Homo sapiens: one gene and its partners. The gene in region 3 interacts genetically with the main gene of each other region. Each region holds a gene or a part of one and is shown on either strand. Other genes may lie near its edges.

Region 1 (3,507 bases), on a different chromosome or scaffold from region 3:
AAGAGCAGTATGCTGAGTGAAAAAAGCCTATCTATCTCAAAAGTTTATATACTGTATGGTTCCATTTCTATAACATTCTCAAAATGACCAAATTTTAGAGAAGGATAACAGATGAATGGTTGTTGGGACTTAGGGATGGTGAAGGAGGAGGGATGGGAATGACTGTAAAGGAGGTAGAGGAGGGAAATCTTTGTGGTGATAAAATAGTTTCGCATCTTGATTGTGGTTGAGGTTACATGAATCTACACTTGCGATTAAATGGCCTAGAATTATACACTTATACACACACAAATGAGTGCTTGTAAAACTAGTGACATATTAATAAGATCTGTGAATTGTACCAATGTCAATTTCCTGACTTGGATATTGAACAGTAATTATGTAAGATGTTAACATGTGGGGAAACCTGGGGAAGGGTGTGTAGAACCTCTCTGCACTATTTTTTTTTTGCAGCTTCCTGTTATTCTATAATTATTTTAAAAGTAAGAGCTCAGTACAAAAAAGGAATGAACTTCTATTGATACATGCACAAATCTGCATGAACCTCAAAGGCATTATGCTGAGTAAAAAAATAAAATAGCCTATCTTAAAAGGTTACAGACTGTTTGATTGCATTTATATGGCATTCTCAAAAAGACAACACTACAGTGATGGAGAACAGATCAGTGCTTGCTAGGTGTGGGGGAGAAAGGAAGATGTGATTGCAAAAGGATAGCACAAGGAGATTTGAGGGGTTATGGAACTCCTCTCTGTCATGAATCTATACATATGTTTAAAATCAGATCTGCACATGCACAAATGTCAATTTTACTGCAGAATAAAATTTAAAATAAAAGTAGATAGGCAAGGCCGGGCATACCTGTAATCCCAGCACTTTGGGAGGCCGAGTCGGGTGGATCACGAGATCAAGAGATCGAGACCATCCTGGCCAGCATGGTGAAACCCCATCTCTACTAAAAATACAAAAATTAGCTGGGCATGGTGGCACACACCTGTAGTCATAGTTACTCGGGAGGCTGAGGCAGGAGAATTGCTTGAACCCGGGAGATTGCAGTGAGCCGAGACCGCGCCATTGTACGACAGCCTGGGCAACAAGAGCAAAACTCCATCTCAAAAAAAAAAAAAAAAAAAAAAAGATAGGCAAGTAGTTTGTTTCTGACTTGTTTCTTCTTTCCTTCCTTCCTTTCATTCGTCCATTCATTCAGCCATTTACTGAGCACCTACTATGAGTGAGGCACTGTGCAAGACTTTGGAAATCAACCAAAAGTAAGACAGCCAGGCCCTGCCCTCAGGGAGCATTGTTTCTGTTTCAGAGAAGTGGCCAGTAGGGTTTGGAGCCCAGTGTTTCTACTTGGGGAAGTGTGGCAAGGCAAAGACTACGGAGGGACAAAGTGAGCAACTTTTCATTCCTAGAGCCCAGTCCGGTAGGATTTCAAATGATCACTTTTCCCTCAAAGACTCTTAGGCCTGAGATCAGAGGAAAGCCCCCAATCCGTGTTTCACAGGTACTCACAAGAGAAAATGCTAGGAGGGTTGTGCCTTGCTAAGGGAAGGAAGAAAAGTTGGGGGTGGGGAGCATGAGATTTGATGCAGTTAGTAAAGAATGAACTCTGAAAAGTGTTACGAGAGAGAGAGAGAGACTTAAAACAACCATTTGTTTAGCTCATGACTCTATAGATTGGCAATTGAGCTGAGTTCAGCTGGGTGGCTCTTCTGGTTCTGGCTGGATACACCCAGCATCTGCAGTCAGCTGGCTGTCAAAGGCCTCGATCACATGTCCAGTAATTGGCTGGTGGTTGCCTGGGTGACAGGGATCTCTGGGCCATTTGTTTCTCATCATCCAGCAAGCTATTCTGGTCTTGTTCCTTATGGCGAGGTCACAGAGTTCCCAAGAGCAGCAGAGAATAAGCCCCAAAATATAAGTGCTTTTTAAAAAATAGCTCTATTGGGGTATAATTCACATACATTACCTGACTTTGAATTTTGTTTTCTCCCCTGTTTGCAGGGAATCTGAAGCATGTGGTCTAGTTGACAGAAAGAGATCAGGTTTCCAGAGCTGAGGAGTGGTGCCTATAATGAAGACAGCGTGTTTATGCAAGCAGTTTGTGGAATTTGTGACTGCAGGGAAAATTTGAAAGAAATTACTTCCTGAAAATTTCCAAGGGGCATCAAGTGGCAGCTGGCTTCCTGGGGTGAAGAGGCAGGCACCCCAGAGTCCTCAACTGGACCTAGGGGAAGAAGGAGATATCCCACATTTAAAGTTCTTATTTAAAAAAACACACACACACAAATGAAATTTTTAATCTTTGAAAATTATTTTTAAGCGAATTGGGGAGGGGAGTATTTTAATCATCTTAAATGAAACAGATCAGAAGCTGGATGAGAGCAGTCACCAGTTTGTAGGGCAGGAGGCAGCTGACAGGCAGGGTTTGGGCCTCAGGACCATCCAGGTGGAGCCCTGGGAGAGAGGGTACTGATCAGCAGACTGGGAGGTGGGGAGAAGTCCGCTGGTGTTGTTTTAGTGTTATATATCTTTGGTTTTTTTAATAAAATCTTTGAAAACCTACCTCTTTGTCCCGTTGTCTTCATTGTAAAGCGCCACTGACAGCACACACAGTTCTGAACTTTTCTTCTCGCTGAAGTGTCAAGAATAACCCTGTTCCTTCCAATCTCTACTCTGGCCCGGCTTGAGAGTCTGACCTCACTGGGGAACTAGTGTGTCCCTAGCCCAAGTTCTTGGGACAGAAGGCCAAGCTCTGTGTTGCACTGGGGCTGTCCATGGTGGGGTAGGAATACTGGCACTGCAGTCATGGAGAGGGGCTTATTGGCACCCTGGGGAGGAGCTGTCCCTGTCCAGGGAGTGATTTAGGGATGGAAAAGGTGTGTTGGCATGTCAGATCCAAGAGGAGCACTTCCATGGATAGAAAGGATGCTTCCCAGTAGACAATTGGCACATAATGAAAAGGGGAGGAAGTTGTAATGTGTGGTGTTACTGCAACCTCTGGGGAGTTGGCAACATGGAAAAATGGGGATGGGAGATAATGGGAGAGATGAGGAAGAGACAACTAAATGTCATGATATTGTAATTTTATTTACCAAATATTTACAAAGCTCCTTCAACTAACTACTGGGACCGGGACGGCAGACAAGCACACAGCCCCATCCATCCTGGCTGTCTAGGAATTCCCAGACAAGGCAAGGGAGGAGAAAAAGAAGCAGATCCCAACATGTTTCCAGCTCTGTTATCAACATGAGCTCAGAGCTGTGGGAGCACATTTCTACTTTTCAGTATTTTCCAAATTTTCTGTAGTGGGCACATTTTACTTTAATAATAGAAAAAAATAAATACATAAACCCCAAAAAAAAAAAAGAAACAATTGATCCGCGGGGAGTTAGGGGGTAGTTACAGATCAAAGTCAGTTCAAGACACCCACTGAGGAAGACTTTGTGCTCAGGCCCTGGGGCTGTTCTAATTGCCTGGAAGACCGATCAGTGGGGGCGATGGCG
Region 2 (4,179 bases), on a different chromosome or scaffold from region 3:
GGCTAGGCAGGTAAGGGACGCAAGGCTCCCAGAAAGGACACCCCACGTATGGCCCATGTCCCTTCTTCTCTACTGGAGGGTGCCAAGACCTCACCCTGGGGGCCCCGTCTAAAATTCTGGATGCGCTGAGGTCAGGAGTTCAAGACCAGCCTGACCAACATAGTGAAACCTGTTCTCTACTAAAAATACAAAATTAGCCGGGCGTGGTGGCAGACGCCTGTAATCCCAGCTACTCAGGACACTGAGGCAGGAGAGTCGCTTGAACCCAGGAGGCAGAGGTTGTAGTGAGCCAAGATCGGGGCACTGCACTCAATCCTGGGCAACAAAAGTGAAACTCCATCTCAAAAAAATAAATAAAATAGTCCGGGCGCGGTGGCTCACGCTTCTAATCCCAGCGCTTTGGGAGGCCGAGGCGGGCGAATCACGAGGTCAGGAGATCGAGACCATCCTGCCTAACACGGTGAAACCCTGTCTCTACTAAAAATACAAAAAAATTAGCCAGGCGTGGTGGTGGGCGCCTGTAGTCCCAGCTACTCAGGAGACTGAGGTAGGAGAATGGCGTGAACCCAGGAGGTGGAGCTTGCAGTAAGCCGAGATGGCGCCACTGCACTCTAGCCTGGGCGACAGAGTGAGACTCCATCTCAAAAAAAAACCATAAATAAATAAATAAAATAAAATAAAACTCTGGGTGTGTCGGCTGATCTTACACTCAGCTTTTCAATTACAAGTGACGTGTACAGGAAAATTAGTCAAGAATTAGAGCCTGTGAGGCTGGGCGCAGTCACTCACGCCTGTAATCCCAGCACTTTGGGAGGCCGAGGCAGGCGGATCACAAGGTCAGGAGATCGAGACCACCCTGGCTAACATGGTGAAACCCCGTCTCTACTAAAAATACAAAAAAATTAGCCGGGCGTGGTGGCGAGCGCCTGTAGTCCCAGCTACTCGGGAGACTGAGGCAGGAGAATGGTGTGAACCCAGGAGGCGGAGCTTGCAGTGAGCCGCGATTGCGCCACTGCACTCCAGCCTGGGCTACAGAGTGAAACTCCATCTCAAAAAAAAAAAAAAAACAATTAGAGCTTGTACACCCTTAAACAAATGCCCCCCTAATCCTGAAGTATGAGGCTAAGACACGAAGTCCAGGCTCTGTCTCCTGAGGAGCCTGTGAGAACTGGTTGGGCCCAGACATTCCTGCTATGAGCTCTCCAACCCGCAGGAGCCCGGGCTGCCCTTTAGCCTAACCAGCGAGGCCACAGGCGATGGAGCCCATCTGCAGGTGAAGGGCCTGGTGGCAGGTGACCTGCTGACCAGCCGGCACCCCACCTGTGGCTGAGGCCAGACGTGTAACACAAGACTCCCCATCACCCCGCCCACCACCTGGCATCTCCGGAGCAGGCGGGAGGCCCTCCCACAAGGCCCCCTAGACTTACTGAACTGTGGCGGGGCACCGTAGCCCTGAGGGAAGCCCTGGGGAGGGGGAAAGCCTCCAGGAGGGGTGGACACGATGTAGGAGGTGAACGGTGGGGGTGGCGGGGGGGCTCCTCTTCCTGCAGGGGGCGGTCCATAGCCACCTGAAACACACAGTACGGGGGTGATGGACAGAGAGCGCTGGACAACACAGACTGGCCACAGTTAGACCCAGGCCTGCCAGGGGCCCTAGCAGGCCCCTCACCCTCTCTTCCTCTCCAGCACTCAGGACACGGGAACCAGGCTTTGCCGGCTGCCCCAGGACACCTGGCGAGTCAGCCTGCCATGTGGCTTCTGTCCCCGCCTTTGCTCTATAAACAAGGACTTACCAATCGCCTGTCCTGCCGGCACCCACATTCCTAGATAAGAGAACAGAAGAGGAGGTTGGCGCCGTGTCCACCAGCTGTCCGACGCAGAGAAGGAGCCGCAGAGCATGGACGTCAAGGGCTGGGACCAACCCCGGAGCCTCCTGTGCTTAGAGCCTGTTCGTCCTGAGGGCAGAGCCCTCTGAACCCTGAGCAGAGAAGCACTCCCCACCCCTTGTAGAACAGGCCTTAAAGCCACTCTCCTCTGTGCCCTGCCAGGTGGCGGGCACTGTGTCTGCTGACTGGGGCACGGGTGACCTCCCGGCTCCACCTGAGGACCCCAGAGAAACCTGAGACTTCTAAGCCTCGAGAGGGCAGGGACAGTCCCCACAGCACCTCCGAGTTTCCAACAAGGGAGGCTCCAGAGAAAAAGGTTTTAGACGAGGTGCAGGGAAGCCACAGTCTCGGGACCCGGACGACGTACATCTGGAACCCTGACCCACAACTCGGGTCGGGCTGCAGCCAAGCCCAGGGGTTCCGTGGCTGCTGGAAGCTCCAAGGACGGCCCACAACGTGGGCCTAACTACAGAGGGCCCACGGCACTGCAGAGGGAACGGCAGGTGGCAAGGATCCAAAGCCTGCCGGCTCCTCAAGCCCCCCAGGGGCAGCACCCCGATTCTGAGCTCAGCTTGGCAATGCCAGCCCTCTCAGGGTTTCGTGCTCAGACCTGCCGTGGCACACGGTCGCGAGGTGCAGACGCTCACTGCAGCTCTTCCCGGTGACAATGAGTCCCAGGCCCCGGACGGGCACCTAAGCCGTGGCCACCCCGCTACTGAGGAGGCTGCGGGTGCTGCCCGGGAGCTGGCTGTCAGCCGGCACCTCGCGGGGGCTCAAGGACACTGTGAACCGCGGCTCTGTGCATGCACAGCAGAGGTGGGGAGGCCGCAGCGACGGCACAGCCCAGGGCGCGCGGGCCAAGTCCGAGAAGGGGGACATTCCCGTGGGCACCTCTGCATCAGCCTTACCTTGCGGGCCATATCCTTGCTGCCACGTGGGCGGGGGCTGGCCTGCCCAGCCATTGGCAGCGTTGGGCACAACCCGGCTCCCCCACTGGCTGGCACCTGGCTGTCCCGGCGCTTGGCTCTTGCTGTCCCGAGGCTCAGCTCGTTTAACTTCCACCTAAACAAACCGAGCTCTGGTTTAGGGCGAGGCTGCGGGTCCCAGCACCCCCTTCCCTTTAGACACACCCTCGGGTAACTTATGACTACACTTAGCATCTTACAACTTAAGACTAAATACTTAACTATAAACCTTATTTAGGCCAGTAGCATTTTTTTCTTAAAAAATTCTTTTGTGTTGAATTTTTTTGTTTAAAAAATGTTTCTCAGGTACAACAGATGCAACCGTAAGACACACAGAGCCCGCCCACTGCGGGGCAGCAGGACCGAGCCCAGAGCCCTCGGGGGTTTCGTGCGTGACGAAGGGTCTTTCACTCAAGTAAAATGGCAGCGTCCTCCTTCCTCTTGAAAACATGGGGACAAAAAGGGACCAGGATCTTCCCAGCAATCGGCATCCTCATCGCCCTCTGGACTGCTTGGAGCCCGCCCACCTGTGCTTTTAACTCATACCTGAGAAACACGGCTGGTGTTTTACTTAGATTTTTAAATTTAAAATGTCTAATGGAAGATAAAGACTTACCTTCCCCAGGCTAACGCTTAAAGAATCTCAATTAACTCAAAACTAATGTCAGAGGGAATGGATGTGATAAGAGAATCTTACATTACATCTAACAAAAAAAGTAACAAACATGCAATAAAATGGACATTTGGATCAGTAAGCAATCTTCATACTGTGTTCGCTCAGCAGCCCGGGGCCCTTCCTCTCTAGACGTGTCAGGAGCCACAGTCTTCTCAGGAGGAGGGTGCGGGGCCGGGGACAATGGATGGAGCAGGCCTGACCTACTTATTCTAGGCGCAGTGGCTGACCTTCCTTTAATGCCTGCTTGAAAATATGGGTGGACTAACAACAGAAAGATCCCCCCAATTCCGGGGCTGCCTCAGCATTTGAGAATCCTGAATTTGTCTCACTTTTCTGATAAATCGTAATGAGAATAAAGAGACAATGGATCCACCTGGAGTCAGCCTTGGGGTCTCAGTCTGGAGAGCTGCACATCCTGAGTTCAGAATCCCTCAGTTCTGCCTGTTAGAGAACAGACAGCAGCAGCCACAGAGGCACAAAGCCCCCACCTGCCCAATGCCCCAAGGACCGGCCTATGATGGGAACAGGATCCGTTAGCTCAAGGCAATGTGACAGCAGGACCAAGGGACCCATTTCAAAGAACTCAAATGAGCGAGTCTTCACACACCCTCCTCAGGGGACTGCGGTTCCTGCTTACAAAGCAGAGCGGTCC
Region 3 (4,179 bases):
AAACATCTCTTTGGGGAATTGGTTTAAAAATTCATATTAAATTATTTTCTGGTACAATTGAGAATGTATTTAGTCAGTTTAAGTAGCAGTGACTTAAAACACACTTGTTGATCTAGTGTAGTTAGAAAAAGTTCTGATACTTTGATACCTAGCTTTGCCTTGCACAAATACATTTAAGTGAATATCTTTATGTTGGCCATTTAAAAATTTTAGGCAAATTTCTCCAAGTCATACTGGAATTTTCCCAGGATACCTTCCTTCTTTTGAGGTAGTGTGCTCAAGGATTCTGAATTTATTTCAGTATTACCCTTTACATGAGCAGTGATTGAGAAAGTTGATCTGCTTTTTAAAAACCAACAAGGACAAATCCTCCAATATAATGTATTCTGTGGTTAATTAGCAATGATTTATGGATTAGCCTTGAAGTCTTTATATCAGTATAGATGACAAATTTTCTGTAAATCATGATAGATTCTATATGAGTAGGTGAAATCTTCGGGGGAGAGCATAAGTGAACAGCAGCAATTCATTAAATTCAGAGAAAGGTTCATGGTCAGATGATACATACTTTACCTTCTGGAGGTCTTCCCTGAATTCCCACTCTTGTGTTCCCACAGGGTTTTATCATATTTTATTGTAGCATGACTCAATTGTATTGTAATCACTTGTTTATGCATCCCTCTCTTCCCTACAGTCAAAGTGCCTCCTGGTAGAGGCTCTGTCTTATTTTTTTCTTTGTATACCTAGTACCTACGTTGGTATTTGCTAGAGAATAGGGGTTTTAAATATAGTTGAATGAATTAAGGAAATATGAAAAATGTAGGGAAATAATTTGACAAAGGAACTTGCAAAGTGAACAGGATATGTTAGTATTCATGTGAGGAACTTTGAAATGTGTTTTTCTCCCTCTTTAATAGGGAATGATTACAAAGAAAAATAGTTGTCAAGGTGAACAAGTTCCAAGTTTTTCCTAGTTATAATCTGTAGTACTAAACATTAGATATCCTTTAGATGCAACTATTACACTCGGACAACTGGAGAGAACTTGATGAATCATCTGGATATTTAGTAATAGTATTTGCTTAATTTGATTTAATGTTGATATTGATGATCTCTTTGCAAAAATATAAGGAAGGGAAAGGGCGAGAGAGGGTAGTAGATCTTTTAACTGAAAAGCTGTTTTGTTATAATTCATGAGTTCTTTATTGGAGTAAATTGAGGTAGGTTTTGGAGCTAAAACTGAAGGATGTAGCGACAGTGTAATTGGATCATTTATTGGGATGCTTTTCATCATTCTTTTAAAATGATTTAAATACAGATTAGCAAATTTAGTGATACCTCAAAAGTTACAGCTGGTAAATTTCTAAGATAGTTGCACCATTCCATATCTTGCCACTGTTCCACTACTTGGTATAAAAATATGACAAATTTGTGTTTAGATTATGTGGTTAGCAGTTTCTTAATAATTGGTCTTGTTTTCCATTAACAATAGCAAGACAGAACAAGATCATAGCTCACTGCATCCTTAAACTCCTGGGCTCAAGGGATCCTCCTGTCTCAGCCTCCTGAGTAACTGGTATTACCAGTGCACACCATTGTGGTGACTTATTTAATTTTTTAATTTTTTGTAGAGATGGGATCCTGCTTTGTTGCCCACGTTGATCTCAAACTCCTGGCTCCAGGCAATCCTCCTGCCTTGGCCTCTTAAAGTACAGGGATGACAGGCTGAGCCATTGTGTTTGACCCAGATACTTTTTTTTTTTGAGACGGAGTCTCGAAAGTGATTCTTGTGCCTCAGCCTCCTGAGTAGCTGGGACTACAAGCGTGCGCCACCACGCTCGGCTAATTTATTTATTTATTATTTATTATTTATTTTTTTGAGATGCAGTGTCACTCTGTCACCTAGACTGGAGTGCAGTGGCACCATCTTGGCTCACTGCAACCTCCACCTCCTGGGTTCAAATGATTCTCCTGCCTCACCTCTCAAGTAGTTGGGATTACAGGCATGCACCACCAGGCCTGGCTAATTTTTGTATTTTTAGTAGTGATGGGATTTCACCATGTTGGCCAGGCTGGTCTCGAACTCCCGACCTCAGGTGATCCACCTGCCCTGGCCTCCCAAAGTACTAGGATTACAGGCGTCAGTCACTGTGCCCAGCCTCCGATAATTTTTATATTTTAGTAGAAACTGGGTTTCACTGTGTTGGCCAGGCTGGTCTGGAACTCCTGACCTCAAGTGATTGACCTGCCTCGTCCTCCCAAAGTGGTGGGATTATAGGTGTGAGCCACCACACCCTGCTGTGTTGTTTTTGTTTTTGTTTTTTGTTTTTGTTTTTGTTTTTTGATATGGAGTCTCACACTTGTTGCCCAGGCTGGAGTGCAGTGGCGTGATCTCGGCTCACTGCAACCTCTGCCTCCTGGGTTCAAGCGATTCTCCTACCTCAGCCTCCCGAGTAGCTGGGATTACGGGAACGCACCACCACACCTGGCTAATTTTTGTATTTTTAGTTGAGATGGGGTTTCACCACGTTGGCCAAGCTAGTCTCGAACTGCTGACCTCAGATGATCCGCCTGCCTCGGCCTCCCAAAGTGCTGGGATTACAGGCGTGAGCTACTGCGCACGCCTGGCCTGGATACTTTTTAAACATTTTTAAATTAAAAATTTTTTTTTGGAGACAGGGTCTTGTTGTCACCCAGGCTGGAGTGCAGATGCGTGATCTCAGTTCACTGCAACCTCTGCCTCCTGGGCTCAAGCGATCCTTCCATCTCAGCCTCCCAAGTAGCTGGGACTACAAGTGCATGCCACCACGCCTGGCTAATTTTTGTATTTTTTGTAGAGACAGGGTTTTGCCATGTTGCCCAGGCTGGTCTTGAACTCCTGAACTCAAGAGATCCACCTACCTCAGCCTCCCAAAGTGCTGGGATTATAGGTGTGACCCACTGCACCCAGCTTTTGTTTTTAATATTTGTAAGAACCACCTTGTGTCTGCCAACAGGCGAATTAACAAAATGTGGTATATAAACCAATGAAAACATAAAAGGAGTGAAATAAAGACGTAAAAGGAGTGAAATTTCAAAATAAAAGTAAAAAGATTTCAAAATAATTCAGACATAAAAGGAGTGAAATTCTGATACATGGATGGAGCTGGAGAATATTATGCTTAGTGAAATAAGCCAGATACAACCTTTTGTACAAAAATACAAAATTGTATGATCTCATTTATATGAGGTAGTTAGAAGAGGCAACTCTATGGAGACAGAAAGTAGAATAGAGGTTACCAGGGCTGTGAGGGGAGAGGTGAATGGGGAGTTTAATGAATACAGAGTTTCTGTTTGGAATGGTGAAAAAATTCTGGAGATGGATAATAGTGATGGTTGAACAATATTTTGAATATATTTAATGCCACAGAATTGTACACTTAAAAATGGTTAAAATGGTAAATTTTACACGATATGTATCTGTATCTATATATATCTCTCTCTATATCTATATATCTTACCAGAATACAAAATTTAATAACACACTCCGAAAACCTTTACAGATGAGGAAACTGAAGAAAACTGTCTACAGGGGAGGAGTTAAGAATTTGCCCAGGATTATTCAGCTGGGAATTTGCATTCGGGATCCAAACTTAGTTCTGTTTCACTACATATTATCTACTCCATATTATCTGTTCTGTGTTATCTGCTGGCTTTCTGGGTGATTAAAGATATGTCAGCTCCGAGAAGAATGAGTTTATTTGAATCATTCAGAAAGTTACATTTAAAAGTAGGTAATTGTAGTTTGATGGAAGGTACAGTGTGAAACCCTAGACAGACTAAAGGTTAACTTTGAGGATTTCTTTCTCAGCCAGAGTGGTAATAGTATGCATTTGAGAGGGGAGGAGAGTAGAGTTCTAAGGATGTGGTCTTTGGAGACAGTTTCTTGGGTTCCAGTCCCTGAGCTACCAATTTGTGTCTGGGGTGTTATCCTCTTGATGTCTTAGCATCCCTATCTGTAAATTGGTGAGGATAATGATAACATCTGATAAGGTGGTTGTGAGGATTAAAGGAATTGATACATGTGAAATCCTTAGAACTGTACCTGGCAAAAAGTGTTTGATAAATGATTTTCAGTTATTGTGCCAATATTATTTTAGAGTTGATGTACTTTCTCATTAATGGAACCAAACACTTCTC
Region 4 (4,179 bases), on a different chromosome or scaffold from region 3:
GCATCTCTTAATCTTATAGGTTAAGAAACAAAATAGTCCCAGCTACTTGGGAGGCTGAGGCAGGAGGATTGCTTAAACCCGGGAGGTGGAGCTTGCAATGAGCCGAATCGTGCCAGTGCACTCCAGCCTCGGCAACAGAGTGAGACTCCGTCTCAAAAAAAGAAATAAATAAAATAAAGATACTAGAACTCTATATAGATGATTACTACTTAATAAGTAAACACTGGTTGAATGAATGAAATTTGTTAGAAAAGCATATTATACTTAGAAAGGGCCAGGTAACAGTGTACCACCTTTCACATGCCTTTCTTTGCCACTGACAGAATTCTATTACTAGGACTAGGTTTGGGTTATGATTCTAAAGTGTACCCTGTCAGCAATGCTAAGATCTCTGCATTCCACTGCATACCACTTCTGCTTAAACTGGTGTTTTGCATATAAACTGGTAACAGAGCTGTTCAGGACAGAAGCGCCAAGGCTCTTTTCCAGATGACATTCTAGAGCCAAGAATGAAAAGAGCAAACTTCTTCTTAAGAGCTAGACAGTAAATATTTGAGGCTTTGCAGTTATTTGGTCTCTTGCAACTGTTCAATTCTGCCACTGTTGCACAAAAACAAAAGAGATGGATCATTGTCATTGTCTATCTCTTCCTCAGCCTCCTGCAACTTTATCTTCATTCTAACATCAGTCACATTTGCCTTTCTCCATTTTTTATTGCCATCACCCTAACCTAAATTTTCATCACTCAAACAAACCTAAATCAGCAATAGGTTCCCTACTCTCATTTTTCCCTAATCAAATTCACTGTCACAAACAATACATAAATACATGGGCAAGGCTGTGTTCCAATAAAACTTCCTTAATTTGAATTATATAATTCTCATGTGCTACAGTATGTTCCTCTCTCTCTTTTTTTTTTTAAACCATTAAAAAGTATAGAAACCATTCTTAGCTTGCAAACCCCTGACACTGAGCACACCAAGCTTGTGCTTGTGTTGGAGGACTTCATTAAGAAACCTTTTCCTCAAAGGCCAGTCCAAGAGCATTCAATGAGGACGGTCCCTGAAATATAAACACTAAGGTCTCCCCTGTGCGATAGAAAACAAAGAAGTTCCACTGCAATCCAACCCTACCTGCAGCATGGACAACCAGACCCAGCGTGGTGGTGATTTTGGAATTGCTAGACCTTGCTGCTTCTGGATCTAAAGTGAAAATGAGAAAGACAGCGTTAAGCTATGTGAGACAGAAACTGTTCAAACATTGGTCTGGAGGTGAAAGAATTTCACTAATGTTGGCCAGGCTGGTCTCAAACTCCTGACCTCCAATGATCCGCCCGCCTCACCCTCCCAAAGTGTTGAGATGATAGGCGTGAGCCACCGCACCCGGCCACTATCTTTTTTCTTTCTGCTTCAAACCCTTAGAAGATTTCCCTGTCCTGAAGAGGTGGCTAAGAGGGAACTCTTCATTTGACTCAGCCCTACCTTAACAGAAAAATCACTGAAATGTGTAACCCCCAATGGCCCCAACTTCCTCCTATTCCTTAATCCTCTTCCTCTACTATTCCAAGGAAAGTGATCTATGGCCTCTGATCATTTCTTTCCAGACCAATCTAATTGTCATTGTCTATCTCTTCCTTAGCATCCTGCAACTTTATCTTCATTCTAACATCTGTCACATTTTTATTGCCATCACCCTAACCTAAATTTTCATCACTCAAACCTAAATTAGCATCAGGTTCCCTACTCTCATTTTTCCCTAATATAATTAATCTTACACATCCGTGTCAGATTCATCGTTTGAAAACACCACCCTTGGCCGGGCACAGTAGCTCACACCTGTAATCCCAGCACTTTGGGAGGCCGAGGCAGGTGGATCACCTGAGGTCAGGAGTTTGAGACCAGCCTGACCAACATGGTGAAACCACGTTTCTACTAAAAAATATAAAAATTAGCTGAGTATGGTGGCGGGCGCCTGTAATCTCGGCTACTTGGGAGCTGAGGCAGGAGAACTGCTTGAACCCAGGAGGCAGAAGTTGCAATGAGCCGAGATTGTGCCATTGCCCTCCAGCCTGGGCAACAAGAGTGAAACTCCGTCTCAAAAACAAACAAACAAAAAACCCACCACCCTTATGATGTGTCAGTTACCATTTAAGAATCTGCTGCTTTTCAAATTCAGGGCAAACTGCTATATTAGATAGGTTCTTAAGCCCTTTATCAACTAGTTCCAACTTATTTCTCAATGTCCAGTCTAGTTAAACCAGTTTGCTTAACACCATCGAACAAAACCTTCTTATTCTCCTTTCCCCAAGTCTCCTCACCTGTAATTCTTGGCACATACTGAACTTCTCAGCTTGTTAAGCCAAAACTTGGACATCAATCAAAGTCTAACTACAGAACCACTTCCCTCAAGAAAGAATAAAAAATTGAAGACTAAGCATGGTGGCTCATGCCTGTAATCTCAGCAGTCTGGGAGGTCGATGGGGGAGGATCACTTGAGGCCAGGAGTTTGAGACCAGCCTGGGCAACATCACAAGACCCTATCTCTACAAAATTTTTAAAATTTAGCCAAGTGTGGTGGTGCATGCCTGTAGTCCCAGGTATCTAGGAGGTTAAGGTGGAAGGATCACTTGTGCCTAGGAGTTTAAGGCTGCAACAAGCTATGCTCATGCCACTGGACTCCAGCCCGGGTGACAGAGCAAGACCTTGTCTCAAGAAAAATTAAAAATAAATTTAAAAAATTGATTCCAGCTCAAAGCAACTCTCCCCTTGCCTAGACCTAGTGATCTATGCAGGCAGTCTTCAAAGGTTCCTCTATACACCACCTCAGATATACAAAGCCATTTTCACTTGAATGTTTTCTATCCCCAGATGGACTGTAAATGCTAAAGCATTAAATTTTCTACCTCTCTTTTCCTTTAACATGTCTGACAGAATGTAGCACAGCACTAGGCACCCAATAGTTACTTAATAAATCCTTGCTGAAGAGTGAAAAAAGCATTTATGTGTATTAAATAAAGATGTTACTGCTCTTGTAGGAAACATACAAGTAAATAAAGTTAAAAGATGGGGACATCAAAATGCCAGGTAAAATGACAGATGAACATCAGTCAAGTAAGTTACAGGGGATTTAATCTTCTTAGGAGTCCAGCATACAAAAGGAAGGGGTTTACAATGGAAAAAGTATACAAGTAAAGTAAGATATTACCTCTTATTAATAAATGATATTTTCCTATTAAAACACTGCAAAGAAGGGAAGCTAAAGACCCTAATCACTCTGCGCCAGCAAATAGCTCAATGCTACCCTGAACTGGAAGGAACAGTCAAATTACACTGTGTGCAAGCTGGCTCTGGCCTTTTTTTATACAAAGGCTTATCATCCAGTTATACTTAGGATCTTAAACAATTAGAGGCTTTAAAATTAGAAAGTTTTTATAAACCTATAAAGACTGCAGTTTAGCATAAATTTAATAAATACATTTTATTGACATTTTATAATACATAAAACTCTGCAGAAAATAGGTAAAACCAGGTCATCAGACACGAAAGCCAGCAAAAATAATGACTTCAGAGATAAAACAGGAAGAAGAATAATGGAACACAAGCTACATTTAACTCTCTGTATAGGATTACTGGCTACTACTGCGCCCACACATTTTATTTTTATTTTTTTAGAGACAGAGTCTTGCTTGTTGCCCAGGCTGGAGTGAAGTGGTGCGATCACAGCTCACTGCAGCCTCGAACTGAAATGATTCTCCCTCGCATCTCAGCCACCTGAGTAGCTGTGATTACAGGCAAGTGCCACTATGCCTGGCTAATTTTTAAAGTACTTTTTTGTAGAGATGGGTCTTGCTGTGTTGTCCAGGCTGGTCTCAAACTCCTGACCTCAAGCCATCTTCCCACTTTGGCCTCCCAAAGTGCTGGGATTACAGGCGTGCACCATTGTGACTGGCCTGACAATCACCATATATATCTTTAGAATCAGGTTTTTTTTAAAAAATCATTCGTTAAATGGAAATTTCTTTCAACTTACTGAGGAGGAAAAATTTTATTTCACATATTTAACATGTTTACATTTACATACATGTTTCAAAACACATAGAAGTGAAGTGGCCATTTCATCATTTTCCAAATTTCTCTTTGGCAGATCAAGGATTCTGAGAAAGTAGAATGGTATGGAAGA
Region 5 (4,179 bases), on a different chromosome or scaffold from region 3:
CTCCATCATCACTTAATTGAATTATTTAAATAAGTTCTTAACTGGTATTCTTTCTTCCTTCTTCCCTTCAGTATATTTTTTACAACAGCCAGAATGATCCTGTTAATACATAAATCACATTCTACCATTCTGTTTAAAATTTTTAAATGACTTCCCATCCTACTCACAGTAAAAACTAACTCCTTCCCATGGCTCAGAGTCTTACATGATCTGGCTTCCTATGAAGCCTTTGCAGGCTACTCAATTTAAGACTTCACACCACGCCCACCATGTCTATACTCCCTTAACTCCTTTCCTACTTTACCTACTTATTTGTTTTATTTTTATTTATTTATTTTTTGAGACAGAGTTTCGCTCTTGTTGCCCAGGCTGGAGTGCAATGGCACGATCTCAGCTCACCACAACCTCCACCTCCTGGGTTCAAGCAATTCTCCTGCCTCAGTCTCCTAAGTAGCTGGAATTACACGCATGTACCACCACGTCCAGCTAATTTTTCGTATTTTTAGTAGAGATGGGGTTTCTCCATGTTGATCAGGCTGATCTCGAACTCCCGACCTCAGGTGATCCACCCGCCCTGGCCTCCCAAAGTGCTGGTTACAGGCGTGAGCCACTGCACCTGGCCTATTTACTTGTTTTAAAATAGACAAAAAGAGTCTGGGCACAGTAGCTCAGGCCTGTAATCCCAGCACTTTGGGAGGCCGAGGCGGGCCCATCACCTGAGGTCAGGAGTTCGAGACCAGCCTGGCCAACACAGTGAAACCCCGTCTGTAGTAAAAATACAAAAATTAGCCGGGCATGGTGGTTGGTCCCTGTAATCCCAGCTACTCGAGAGGCTGAGGCAGGAGAATCGCTTGAACCTGGGAGGCAGAAGTTGCAGTGAGCCAAGATCATGCCATTGCACTCAAGCCTGGGCAACAAGAGCGAAACTCAGTCTCAAAAAAAAAAAAAAAAAAAAATTAAAATAGACAAAAAGAGTGAGAAAAAAATCCTACTGGAGAATGGAGAAAGTTGTCTTTTTAGAATCATTCAAACTTGGGAAGTAACGAAAGGTAGTCAAAGAAGAGAAAAAACTAACAGCAATTTCTTGTTATAGGTTTATTACACTAAAAAAGATACAATGCTAAGGACAGTATGGTGTTTTATTATCATTATCCTATACTAGTGAGGATGGAAAAAGATGGTATGCAATACAAATGCTTCCCTGGGAAACAAGGATAAGTATAACATAACTCCCGAAGGAGTCCCATGAAAGGACGGAGGATGGAGGAATCAACTCTGCTGGTGATGAGCTGTGGAGGGAGGCAGGACATCAAGGAAGCTCCAGGGGAAGTATTCTTTGAGCTGGGTCTTAATGGAAGGATGAATAGGAATTCAATAGATCAGTAATATTCAAAAACAGAAAAACATTCTTGGAAAAATGAGAAAAAAGCAACTTTCTAACTAAATTCTAATTCACAAGGCTATCTAATGTTTAACAAATGCTTACAGCCAAGACAAAACGAATATAGTTGTTCTCCACTGATGAAAAATAACAGTTGCTAGGTTTTTAAGTTTATAATTAATAGAAAAATAATGCAAATTGATTATTAGAAGTAAATTATGAGAATAAAACTTTTAAAAGTGTTTTTTATATATATAGGAATATATACCTTATCTCTTGCAGTAAGAAATCGTGGATCATCTTGAAAAGCTTCTTTGACGAGTTTACTAAATCTATTAAATAGTGTAAGTAACTGCTCAACGTATTTCTCAGAGTCCTAGAAACAAAAGGTTTTACATTAAGTTTTTAAAAGAAAAAGAATAACACAAAAAAATGAGAAAATAAACATAATTTTAATAAAACTCATTTAAAACTGGGGATATTTTTTCTTAAAAATAAAACTAAAAGGTGTTCCAATATTACTGTTTTGCCACTTCTTTTTTCTTTCTTCCTTTTTTTTTTTTTGAGACGGAGTCTCGATCTGTCGCCCAGGCTGGAGTGCAGTGGCACCTTCTCGGCTCACTGCAAGCTCCACTTCCTGGGTTCACGCCATTCTCCTGCCTCACCCTCCCAAGTAGCTGGGACTATAGGCGCCCGCCACCCCGCCTGGCTATTTTTTTTGTATTTTTAGTAGAGAGGGGTTTCACCATGTTAGCCAGGATAGTCTCGATCTCCTGACCTTGTGATCTGCCCACCTCGGCCTCCCAAAGTGCTGGGATTACAGGCGTGAGCCACCTTGCCCAGCTCCCTGTTTTACAGAGAAAATAGTAATTTCAATTACTATTTTCAATTTTCAATTCTGTATTTTTAAAAATTTAATGTTTTTATTTGTAATCAACACATAATGGTACATATTATGGGGTACAATGTTATATTTCAATGCATGTATATACTATAATGATCAAATTGGGGTAACTACTATATCCATCACTTCAAACATTTATAATTTCTTTGTGGTAACAACATAAAAAATCTCTTCTATCTTGAAATATACACTACATTGTTACTTGCTATATCCGCCCTAATGGGTAATAGAACACCAAAACTTATTCTTCCTATTGAACTATAACTTTATACCCCACTAACCAACCTCTTCTGCTCCCCCAACCCCCAGCCTCTGGTAACCGCTCACTATTTTCAATAATCCTACATTTAAAAAATAGCCTTGATATATATCTATCATTGCCATTGAAAAAAAACTTACAGTAGTAATAGTTTCAGCAGCTGCTACCATATCTGCCAGGCCAGCACTAATGATATGTTCCTCCAAGTCTTTCAACATTGGCTCTATACCATTAGGAACTTTGTCCATCAATGAAAACATTAAATGTAATTCTGGAAGGAGAGAACACATTCATGTAATCATTTCATTTACTAGAGTAAGAGTTTAGAGAAACATTAGTTAAGTTTGTAATGTTAATAGTATTCTGTGGATACAATGCCATTAGGAGTAGTTGTTCGTTTTTTTGTTGTTGTTTTTTTGTTTTTGAGACAGGGTCCCAGTCTGTCACCCAAGCTGGAGTACAGTGGCTCGATCACGGCTCACTGCAGCCTTGACCTCTTGGGCGCAAGCAATCCTCCCATCTCAGCCTCCTGAGTAGCTGGGACCACAGGCACATGTCACCATGCCTGGCTAATGTTTTTTGTAATTTTGTAGAGACAGGGTCTCCCAATGTTGCCCAAGCTGGTCTCAAACTTCGGGGCTCACACAATCCTCTCGCCTTGGTCTCTCAAAGTGCTGGGATCATAGGTATGAGCCACTGTACTTAGTCTAAAAATTATGTTTAAAAAAAAATCGAATTAAAAGTGATCAGGCTGGGTGTGGTGGTTCACGCTTGTAACTCCAGCACTTTGGGAGGCCAAGGTGGGAGGATCATTTGAGCCCAGGAGTTAAAAAGACCAGTCAGGGCAACATGGCAAAACCCATCGTTACACAAAAACAAACAAACAAAATTAGCTGGGTGTGGTGGTGCATGTCTTTGGTCCCAGATACTTGGGAGGCTGAAGTGTGAGGAATGCCTAAGCCCAGGAGGCTGAGGCTGCAGTGAGCCGTGATTGCACCATTGCACTCAGCCTGGGTGACAGGGCAAGACGGTCTCAAAAAATAAAAATAAAAAAAGTGATCAAATACTGCAAAACCCAACTCCTTTCTTTAAAAGGTCAGTCATTTGGCCAGAAGCAGTGGAGATCAGCCTGGGCAACAAGGTGGGGCTCTGCCTCTACAAAAAATACAAAAATTAGCCAGGCATGGTGGTACACGGCTGTAGTCCCAGCTACTCAGTGGGCTGGGAGGTGGGAGGATCGCTTGAGCCCAGGAGGTCAAGGCTACAGTGAATTGTGATCGTGCCATCGAATTCCAGGTTGGGCAACACAGCGAGACCCAGTCTCAAAAGAAAAGGTGAGTCATTTGGTTTTCAGTGCAAAGGAATATTTATTTACACACAAGATTAGTTTATTTCATAAGGTAGTTGTAATACTACATATACAGCCATATCATCAAAAGGTAAAAAACATGAGTAATAATTACGAAAGCAACTATATTAGAGATTAGAATATAAAACTGTATTCATAAATAATTTTTCAATTTACAAAGCACTTTTTCATGTTATGCCATTTTATTGACCTTCACAAAAACCCTACCTCACGGTACTGATTACCACTAAATAAATCCTTTTGAAAAGAGTGCAACATAGATCAGA
Region 6 (4,179 bases), on a different chromosome or scaffold from region 3:
CGCCTGCCTTGGCCTCTGAAAGTGCTGGGATTACAGGCGTGAGCCACCGCGCCCGGCCTTACCACACTGTTCTTAAGACAGATGATAATAAAGTCACTTGACAGAAAAACTGGGTGCAAAATGTGTGGCTTTGATTTACAGGCTGACTGAAATTAAAGCTTTCTTTCTGAACTTAAACCTCAAAGCTACAGGTAATTTTTTTTTTTTTTTTTGAGAAAGAGTTTTGCTCTTATTGCCCAGACTGGACAGCAATGGCGTGATCTCGGCTCACCGCAACCTCCGCCTCCCGGGTTCAAGCAATTCTCCTGCCTCAGCCACCCAAGTAGCTGGGATTATAGGCATGCGCCACCACGCCCGGCTAATTCTGTACTTTTAGTAGAGACAGGGTTTCTCCATGTTGGCCAGTCTGGTCTCGAACTCCCGACCTCTGCCTGCTTCGGCCTCTCAAAGTGCTGGGATTACAAGCGTGAGCCACCATGCCTGGCACAGCTATAGGTAATTTAAACAAAATAGGTGAAAAAATTTCTAGCTATAAAATGGACACAATTTAGTCTTAAAACTCAAACAGAATATTGAAACATTTACAAATAGAAAAAAGCTCAATGCATTCTACAGAACAAAAATGTCCAGTCTTTTCCTATATAGTTAAAGCCAGTGATCCCATTTTTATTAATATCTGCTAAAACCCATGTAGCAGTTTGTAGATGTAGTTATTTACTCAGGAATCCTAAGACACAAAAAATAAACTAAATTTTAAGCAGCTGTTTCAAAAAAGACTATACACACATAAAATAGGATTACACACTTTAATCTGATTGACACTGAGGAAGTAGGGAGGACATGAAAGAAATTTAGTTTTAGCTCTGCTTTATGCATAACCAGATGCTCCTTTTCTAAAAAGTATATTGAGGTTTTAAAAAACACATTTATCAGAATACTTCAGGAAACCATACTATGTGTAATCCAGGAAATACACTATTTGCAGAATAGGAAAATCATCACTGGCAACAAAAGATTAAAACAAAAATAAAGCACCAGGGTTCTGAGCAGTTCTAAGGTGAGTATATCAGCAGAAATAGTGTAAATGCTCTTGACTGGTTGCTATGCAAACATGCTAATGAGGACTAGTCCATGTCTTATAATTTTTTTTTTTAACATGTTTCTTTGGAAAAATGGCAATATTGAGTGGAAGAGAAGCTGTCCTTTTAGACACCCAGCTTATTGGCCTGGGTGAGAACAACTTTGAGAACTGGCATGAAAGCAGAGGTCTCACTGAAGTTGCTGGTGCTAACTATGTGGGTATGCATGGTCAATCCTTCTGAGTAGTTTCGAGTTTCAATGCTCCTTGCAATGTTGTGTAAACCACTGGTGATTGTTGGTGAAAGCTGAAACAAAAGTGAACCAAGAGAAAGAATTAAATTAAGGGATAACTTCCCATGAGATCCTCCATAAACATTAAACCCAGATATTTAAGTGGAATTTGAAACAAACATTATAAAAATATATAAACCATTTAGCATTTCTAGAAAGTTTCTTGAACCAAGCAACAGTTATCAAGTACAACCACAACAAAATGATTTACATAAATAAGTTATTTATGAATTATACATGTATAAGCCAGGTATTTTCTTACAGAAAAGCAGCCCGATTTCCTCTCCAAACTGAAATGCTAATTTCTCTCTCCACTTAAGAGAGCTTCAGACCTTTAAAAAATTCTCCTATGCACAAAAAGGAGATTAAAGATTCTTAATCATAATATCTCAAAGGAAGGGCCCAAATTTACTAATTCTTACCTGCTTTTTATAATCCTGTCATCTCTTAAAACTATAAAACCTGTAGTTTTTTACTATGTCATTACTTGGCATAGGTGTCCATACTTTACAGAAGACTTTATTTGGATTTTTTTTTTTTGAGATGGAGTCTCACTCTGTCACCCAGGCTGGAGTACAGTGGTGCGATCTCGACTCACTGCAACCTCCGCCTCCCGGGTTCAAGCGATTCTCCTGCCTCAGCCTCCTGAGTAGCTAGGACTACAGCCGTGTGCCACCATGCCCAGCTAATTTTTGTATTTTTAGTAGAGACGGGGTTTTGCCATGTTGGCCAGGCTGGTCTCAAACTCCTGACCTCAGGTGATCTGCCCGCCTCAGCCTCCCAAAGTGCTGGGATTACAGGCGTGAGCCACCATGCCTGGCCTATTTTGATCTCATTTTTAAAAAATGTTTTAATATATACTCATCTAGATGTATACGCTAATTGTATCTTCTGTTTTTTTTTTTTTTTTTTGGAAATGCGGTCTTGCTATGTTGCCCAGGCTGGTCTCAAACTCCTGGGCTCCAGTGATCCTCCCGCATCAGCCTCCTCAGTAGCTGGGATTACAGGCATATCCCACTGTGCCCACCGAGAAGACTTTATTTTGGATCAGTCCAAGGACCACACTACTTCCACTGTTATATCAACTTTCTTTAGTTTGGTTCTCATGAGAGAAATGGTTATTTTCATCTGATGGAACTGAGTGTGGGGAATGGGTTAGAGGAATGCTGAAATGGAAAAAATAAAAAGAAAGTCCCACTTCTTTTTTTCTTCTCCTTTCCTAGTGCTTTCATTAATAAAACAAGACAATTTTAGAAAAGAATGGTGAGGTGGGGACAAGAGAACAAACGTAGTGAACTGACTTCTTACTCCTGGCTATCTTCATAGTTACAGCACATTACCCTATTCATCTTGTGGCTACATTTGGCTTTGCTTTTGTATAATGGCTATCCTAAAAGAAAAGGGTCAAGAGTCTTAGACTATGATAAAGATTATAGATTTAGTCCCTGGAAAACAGAGTATCTGCATACTCTTTGATTTCTTGTAACTGGGCCATATAAAAGGAACAGCAGAAGGTCAGCTACCTTATGGCCAACACAGGCCAGTTTGTATTTATACTCTTGTTATGAGAGGGTTAAAATGTCTCTCTCAACACACCCACACAAACACACACACACACACCCGTATCCCCTTAACCCCAGTGAGTGGAATTTATGATTCAACACAGCCATGCCCATTCTCTAAATGTCATGACAATTTTGCCCCCATGCATACTAAATGGGAGTGCTGATAAGACAACTGTTTTACTAGCAACTAGGAATAAATGATTATCATAAATCCTTTTCCTCCAAAACTTACTGTCTGTTCCCTAAGTTTATCATACAGAAACTCCAAACGTTTGCTGGCATCATCTAGCTTCCTCTTGGTTTGCTGCAGGAAAGAAAAAATAGATGTTATATTTGAACATTAACTTTTAACCTAAGAACTTGCCCTATCTCATTGCACTAAACCTTATACTTAAAATGTTGAATGGCTTCATTTTATAAAGAAATGGAGGCAACTACAACTAAGAAACTTGAACAGATTATGGCCGGGCGTGGTGGCTCACGCCTGTAATCCCAGCACTTTGGGAGACCAAGGCAGGCAAATCATGAGGTCAGGAGTTTGAGACCAGCCTGGTCAACATGGTGAAACCCTGTCTCTACTAAAAATACAAAAAATTTGCTGGGCGTAGTGGCAGGCGCCTGTAATCCCAGCTAGTCGGAAGGCTGAGGCAGGAGAATTGCTTGAACCCAGGAGGTGGAGGTTGCAGTGAGCCGAGATCACGCCACTGCACTCCAGGCCCAGGCGACAGTGCAAGACTCCGTCTCAAAAAAAAAAAAAAAAAAAAAAGAAACTTGAACAGATTATTAGAACAGAGATCAATCATCTATCAAGGGTGGAGGGTGGAGGGGACTGGGATGAGGAGAGGATGAGACTTACTTCCAGTGCATGAAAGAGTACTGATTGGATTTCATATGAACTGCAAACTCACTTGATAAGGTATATATGCATGTTTGCTTGCACTATATTCACAAGCATCAGGAGGCAGCAATGGGTCAGTGTATCACAAAAAAGAAGGTCTAAGTAGTTATTGTCGATTATGGGTGGTAGAAGGCAAACATATAGGTGAACTGTGGAATCTTGTTTTAACCTTTCAAAAATACTACTTAAACACTTAGTTACATTTGTTTAATCCTGCCTTTTTCTAAGCCTTTAAAGCACCAAGAAAGAAAGAAAACTATCTTTTGGCAGCTTAAGATTACTGAGGGAAGTAGTAAAATAAATTATTAAATTAAAAAGCTTTTTTTTCTCTCTACCATAGCACTG
Region 7 (4,179 bases), on a different chromosome or scaffold from region 3:
AGAGGCATGCACCACCAGACACAGCTAATTTTGTTCATTTTTTGTAGAGACAAGGCCTCACATGTTGCCCAGGCTGGCCTTGAACTCCTGGGCTCAACTGATCCTCCCACCTCAGCCTCCCAAAAGTGCTGGGATTACAGACATGAGTCACTATGCCTGGCCAGTGACAGAAGTCTTGACACTGTACTACACTAAACTGCAGAATCAAAAACGATTGCCATGAGAGGGTATCTAGTCCAACCATCCTCTGGCAGACAAGGACACCCAGACTCAAAGGGGTGGTTACACTCAACACTGCAAAGCCAGTAGGAGACAGAGATTACAGGTTTTCTGACTCAAGTCTGCATTCTTGACTCCAACTACATAAGTGCACTATCTGCCAGGCCAGGCACACCTTCCCCTGAAACCCCTAAGGTATTTGAAAATGACCAGGGGTGGTTCTTGGCTGCCACAATGACTGAAGTGCTGAGGACATTTGGTGCTCAGGGGCCAGGAATATGAAACACCCTTTGCAATTTCATTAAACAAACTAATGCTCACTTAAAAATCCAATAGTGCACAACCCTCACCAACCCCAAACTCAACACTGGCTCATTATGTTTACACATAAAGGTATGTCAAATGACCGTTTGAGAGCCCAAACCACTGTGACTGGCAAAAAAAAAGTCGGCGCCATTGATGAGAAAGTCCCACCTAGCTCTGATCACTTTTTCTTAGAGTCAATTTTAGCCCACCATTAACTTCCAATCTTTGCTGTCAAACTCAATCTGGCTCAATGGGACACTAACTGTACATTTGCTTATGAACTTCCAACTGGAAGATGGAATAGTGGGGATATTTGGTAAACATCCACAATAAGGGGAAAAGCACTAACCAGACAACACAAAATAAAATTCCTTCTACTCATCTTTCTGACCTCAGTCTCAGACACACCAGTATCTTCCAGACATTTTCCCCCCAAAGTTAGGTATAGTTGCATATAATAAAACCCACTCAAGTGTACAGTTAAATGAGTTTTGGCAAATGTACAGTTGTATAACCCCCACAGTAAGATATAAAACATTTCCATTAACCCAGAAAGCTCTCCCAGGCTCCTCCGCAGTCAACCCCTCATACCTACCCCAAGTAGCCACTGATCTATGGTTTTGTCTCTCCATAATACGATATAAATAGAATCAGATGGTCTTGAGTCTTTGTGTCTGGCTACTTTCATCAGTACACTGCTCTTGAGATTCATCCATGTTCTTGTGTGTATCAGTAGTTGCTTCTTTTCTTACTGCTGAATAATATTGCATTATGTGCAATGTGGCAGTATAATTTTGGGTTGTTGAGATAGGGTCTCACTCTGTTGCACTGGTTCGAGTGCAGTGGTGCAATCGTGGTTCACTGCAGGCTCAACCTCCTGGGCTTAAGCAATCCTCCAGCTTCAGCCTCCTGAGTAGCTGGGACCACAGGCATGTGCCACCACACCCAGCTAATTTCTAAATTTTTTGTAGAGATGGGGTCTCCTTATGTTGCCCAGGCTGGCCTCGAACTTCTGGGCTCAAGTGATCCTCCTGGCTTGGCCTCCCAAAGTGCTGGGATTACAGGCGTAAGCACCGCACCCAAAAAATTTTTTATGTCCTAGTTGAGAAATCTTTGCCTAATCCCAGGTCCCAAATATTTTTCCCTGTTTTCTTCTAAAAGTTTTCTAGTTTTAGGCTTCATATTTAGGTCTCTGAGTCATTTCAAGTTAAATTTTTATATGGTACAAGATATGAATCAAGGTTTGCTTTTTGTTGTTGTTTTTCCTTTTGAGACGGAGTTTTGCTCTTGTCACCCAGGCTGGAGTGCAATGGGCACAGTCTTGGCTTACGGCAACCTCCACCTCCTTGGTTCAAGCAATTCTCCTACCTCTCTGCCTCCTAAGTAGCTGGGACTACAGGCATGTGCCACTACGCCCGGCTAATTTTTTAATATTTTTAGTAGAGAAGGGTCTTCACCATTTTGGCCAGTCTAGTCTCGAACTCTTGACCTCAGGTGATCCACACGCCTCGGCCTCCCAAAGTGCTAGGATTACAGGCGTGAGCTACAGCTCCCGAACAAGGTTTGCTTTTTTACATATGAACGTCTGACTCTTCCAGCATCATTGGTTGAGAATTCTTTCTCCTTTGCATTACCTTGACCCCTTTATTGAAAATCAGTTGACCATGTATTTATTCATCTATTTCTGGACTCTATTCTGTTCCATTATTTATTTGCCTATCTGTCTGCTAGTAGGCAAACTGTCTTGATTATAGTAGCTTTCTAGTAAGTTCTAAAATCAGACAGTGAGTTCTCCAACTTTGTTCTTCTGTTTCAAAATTGTTTTGCTATTCTCTACTTTTGCTTTTCCATGTACATTTTACAATCAGCTTGTCGAATTTTACAAAAAGCCTGCTGAGATTCTGATTGGGATTGTGTTGAATCTATTGAGCAGTCTGGGGAGAACTGACATCTTACAATATTAAGTCTTCCAACGCATAAACATAGCACATTTCTCCATTAATTTACGCCTTTTTTAAGTTCTTTTTTTTCAGACAGAGTCTCGCTCTAGCACCCAAGCTGGAGTGCAGTGGCACGATCTTGGCTCACTGCAACCTCTGCCTCCCATGTTCAAGTGATTCTCATGCCTTAGCTGGGACTACAGGTGCGCACCACCACGCCCAGGCAATTTTTGTATTTTTAGTAGAGATGGGGTTTTGCCATGTCGGCTAGGCTGGTCGCTAACTCCTGGCCTCAAGTGATCTGCCTGTCTCGCCCTCTCAGGGTGCTGATATTACAGGCGTGAACCACTACGCCCGGCTGCCTTAATTTCTTTCAGCAATGTTTTAAAGTTTTCAGTGTACTTCTTATGATTCTTTCATTAATTTTATTTCTTTATTTCTTTTTCTGAGACTGAGTCTCGCTCTGTCGCCTCAGCTGGAGTGTAGGGGCATGATCTCCGCTTACTGAAACCTCCGTTTCCCAGGTTCAAGCAATTCTCCTGCCTCAGCCTCCCATGTTGCTGGAATTATAGGCGTGCGTGACCACGCCTGGCTAATTTTAATTTTTATTTTTTGTATTTTTTAGTAGAGACAGGGTTTCACCATGTTGGCCAGGCTGGTCTCAAACTCCTGACCTCAAGTGATCTGCCCATCTCAGCCTGACAGAGTTCTGGGATTATTGGCATGAGCTACTGCGCCTGGCCCATTAACTTGATTTCTACACAAGTTTTATGCTATTATAAATGAAATTGTGTTTTATTTTTTTTAAGATAGGATCTTGCTTGTCACCCAGGGTGGAGTGTAGTGGCTCAATCACAGCTCACTACAGCCTTGACCTCCTAGGCTCAATTGATCCTACCACCTCAGCCTCCCAAGTAGCTGGGACTACAGGTACAAGCCACCGTACCCAGCTAATTTTTGTATTTTTTGTAGAGACAGGGTTTTGCCATGTTGCCCAGGCTGGTCTTGAACTCCTGGGCTCAAGTGATCCACCCACTCTGGCCTCCCAGTATGCTGGGCTTACACATATGAGCCACTGTGCTTGACCATGAAACTGTTTTAAATTCCATTTCCAATTGTTCATTGGTACTGTATATAGAAATACAACTGATTTTTGTACATTAATCTTGGCTTCTATAACTTTGCTACATTAGTTATTAGTTTTAGTAGCTTTTTTGTAGATTCCTAAGGATTTTTCTACATATATTCATAGATCTTGTCATCCATGTTTAACTCTTAAAAATCCATATGACTAAGTCTAAATATTCATTTTATGGAGCACCCACAGACTTTCAACAATCATATAATTGTTAGGGGAGTTAACGTATAAAGATGTAAAAGGAGACAAAACCCAGTGTCCTAAAACACTTAAGATAGCAATGCAAGTAATGTCACAAGGTAATACATGATTGGCTTCTTATTTATGACACAGATAATAATCGATAACAATTGAGAGGAAACAGCAATAATTCAAATGGGGCACCTGAGGAAAAAAGTAAGCATCTGAGCAGAGTCTTCAAAGGAGAATAGGAAGGATCTGGGTAGGCAAATAGGAAAGGGAAGGGCATCCCAGGTAGGTAGAACAGAAGGGTCACACATACAAAGGTGGCAAACTAAATGACCCATTTGATAGCAGCAAGCAGGCCTGTTTGAGAGAGCCACGTGGGAGTGCAGC

Evidence for each region.
Region 1: changes in EZH2 (region 3) and HDAC8 together harm fitness more than expected from each alone (negative genetic interaction), as found in Homo sapiens cells (one large-scale study listed by BioGRID).
Region 2: changes in EZH2 (region 3) and DAZAP1 together harm fitness less than expected from each alone (positive genetic interaction), as found in Homo sapiens cells (one large-scale study listed by BioGRID).
Region 4: changes in EZH2 (region 3) and SLC39A9 together harm fitness more than expected from each alone (negative genetic interaction), as found in Homo sapiens cells (one large-scale study listed by BioGRID).
Region 5: changes in EZH2 (region 3) and CUL5 together harm fitness less than expected from each alone (positive genetic interaction), as found in Homo sapiens cells (one large-scale study listed by BioGRID).
Region 6: changes in EZH2 (region 3) and SEC31A together harm fitness less than expected from each alone (positive genetic interaction), as found in Homo sapiens cells (one large-scale study listed by BioGRID).
Region 7: changes in EZH2 (region 3) and DCAF7 together harm fitness less than expected from each alone (positive genetic interaction), as found in Homo sapiens cells (one large-scale study listed by BioGRID).

The regions. Positions count from the first base shown.
Region 1 is NC_000023.11:72,328,575-72,332,081, reverse strand, and holds the end of HDAC8 (histone deacetylase 8), read left to right. Parts: intron 1-1,205; exon of another isoform or gene 1,206-1,266; intron 1,267-1,313; coding exon of another isoform or gene 1,314-1,391; intron 1,392-2,005; coding exon 2,006-2,028; 3' UTR 2,029-2,566; downstream 2,567-3,507. UniProt on the Homo sapiens protein: Histone deacetylase that catalyzes the deacetylation of lysine residues on the N-terminal part of the core histones (H2A, H2B, H3 and H4).
Region 2 is NC_000019.10:1,427,611-1,431,789, reverse strand, and holds part of DAZAP1 (DAZ-associated protein 1), read right to left. Parts: intron 2,949-4,179; coding exon 2,795-2,948; intron 1,824-2,794; coding exon 1,794-1,823; intron 1,569-1,793; coding exon 1,428-1,568; intron 1-1,427. UniProt on the Homo sapiens protein: RNA-binding protein, which may be required during spermatogenesis.
Region 3 is NC_000007.14:148,877,390-148,881,568, reverse strand, and holds part of EZH2 (histone-lysine N-methyltransferase EZH2), read left to right. Parts: intron 1-4,179. UniProt on the Homo sapiens protein: Polycomb group (PcG) protein. Catalytic subunit of the PRC2/EED-EZH2 complex, which methylates 'Lys-9' (H3K9me) and 'Lys-27' (H3K27me) of histone H3, leading to transcriptional repression of the affected target gene.
Region 4 is NC_000014.9:69,450,264-69,454,442, reverse strand, and holds part of SLC39A9 (zinc transporter ZIP9), read right to left. Parts: intron 1,203-4,179; coding exon 1,134-1,202; intron 1-1,133. UniProt on the Homo sapiens protein: Transports zinc ions across cell and organelle membranes into the cytoplasm and regulates intracellular zinc homeostasis. Participates in the zinc ions efflux out of the secretory compartments.
Region 5 is NC_000011.10:108,070,968-108,075,146, reverse strand, and holds part of CUL5 (cullin-5), read right to left. Parts: intron 2,816-4,179; coding exon 2,685-2,815; intron 1,758-2,684; coding exon 1,650-1,757; intron 1,348-1,649; coding exon of another isoform or gene 1,270-1,347; exon of another isoform or gene 1,081-1,269; intron 1-1,080. UniProt on the Homo sapiens protein: Core component of multiple cullin-5-RING E3 ubiquitin-protein ligase complexes (ECS complexes, also named CRL5 complexes), which mediate the ubiquitination and subsequent proteasomal degradation of target proteins.
Region 6 is NC_000004.12:82,817,869-82,822,047, forward strand, and holds the end of SEC31A (protein transport protein Sec31A), read right to left. Parts: intron 3,241-4,179; coding exon 3,169-3,240; intron 1,386-3,168; coding exon 1,206-1,385; 3' UTR 641-1,205; downstream 1-640. UniProt on the Homo sapiens protein: Component of the coat protein complex II (COPII) which promotes the formation of transport vesicles from the endoplasmic reticulum (ER).
Region 7 is NC_000017.11:63,574,064-63,578,242, reverse strand, and holds part of DCAF7 (DDB1- and CUL4-associated factor 7), read right to left. Parts: intron 1-4,179. UniProt on the Homo sapiens protein: Involved in craniofacial development. Acts upstream of the EDN1 pathway and is required for formation of the upper jaw equivalent, the palatoquadrate. The activity required for EDN1 pathway function differs between the first and second arches.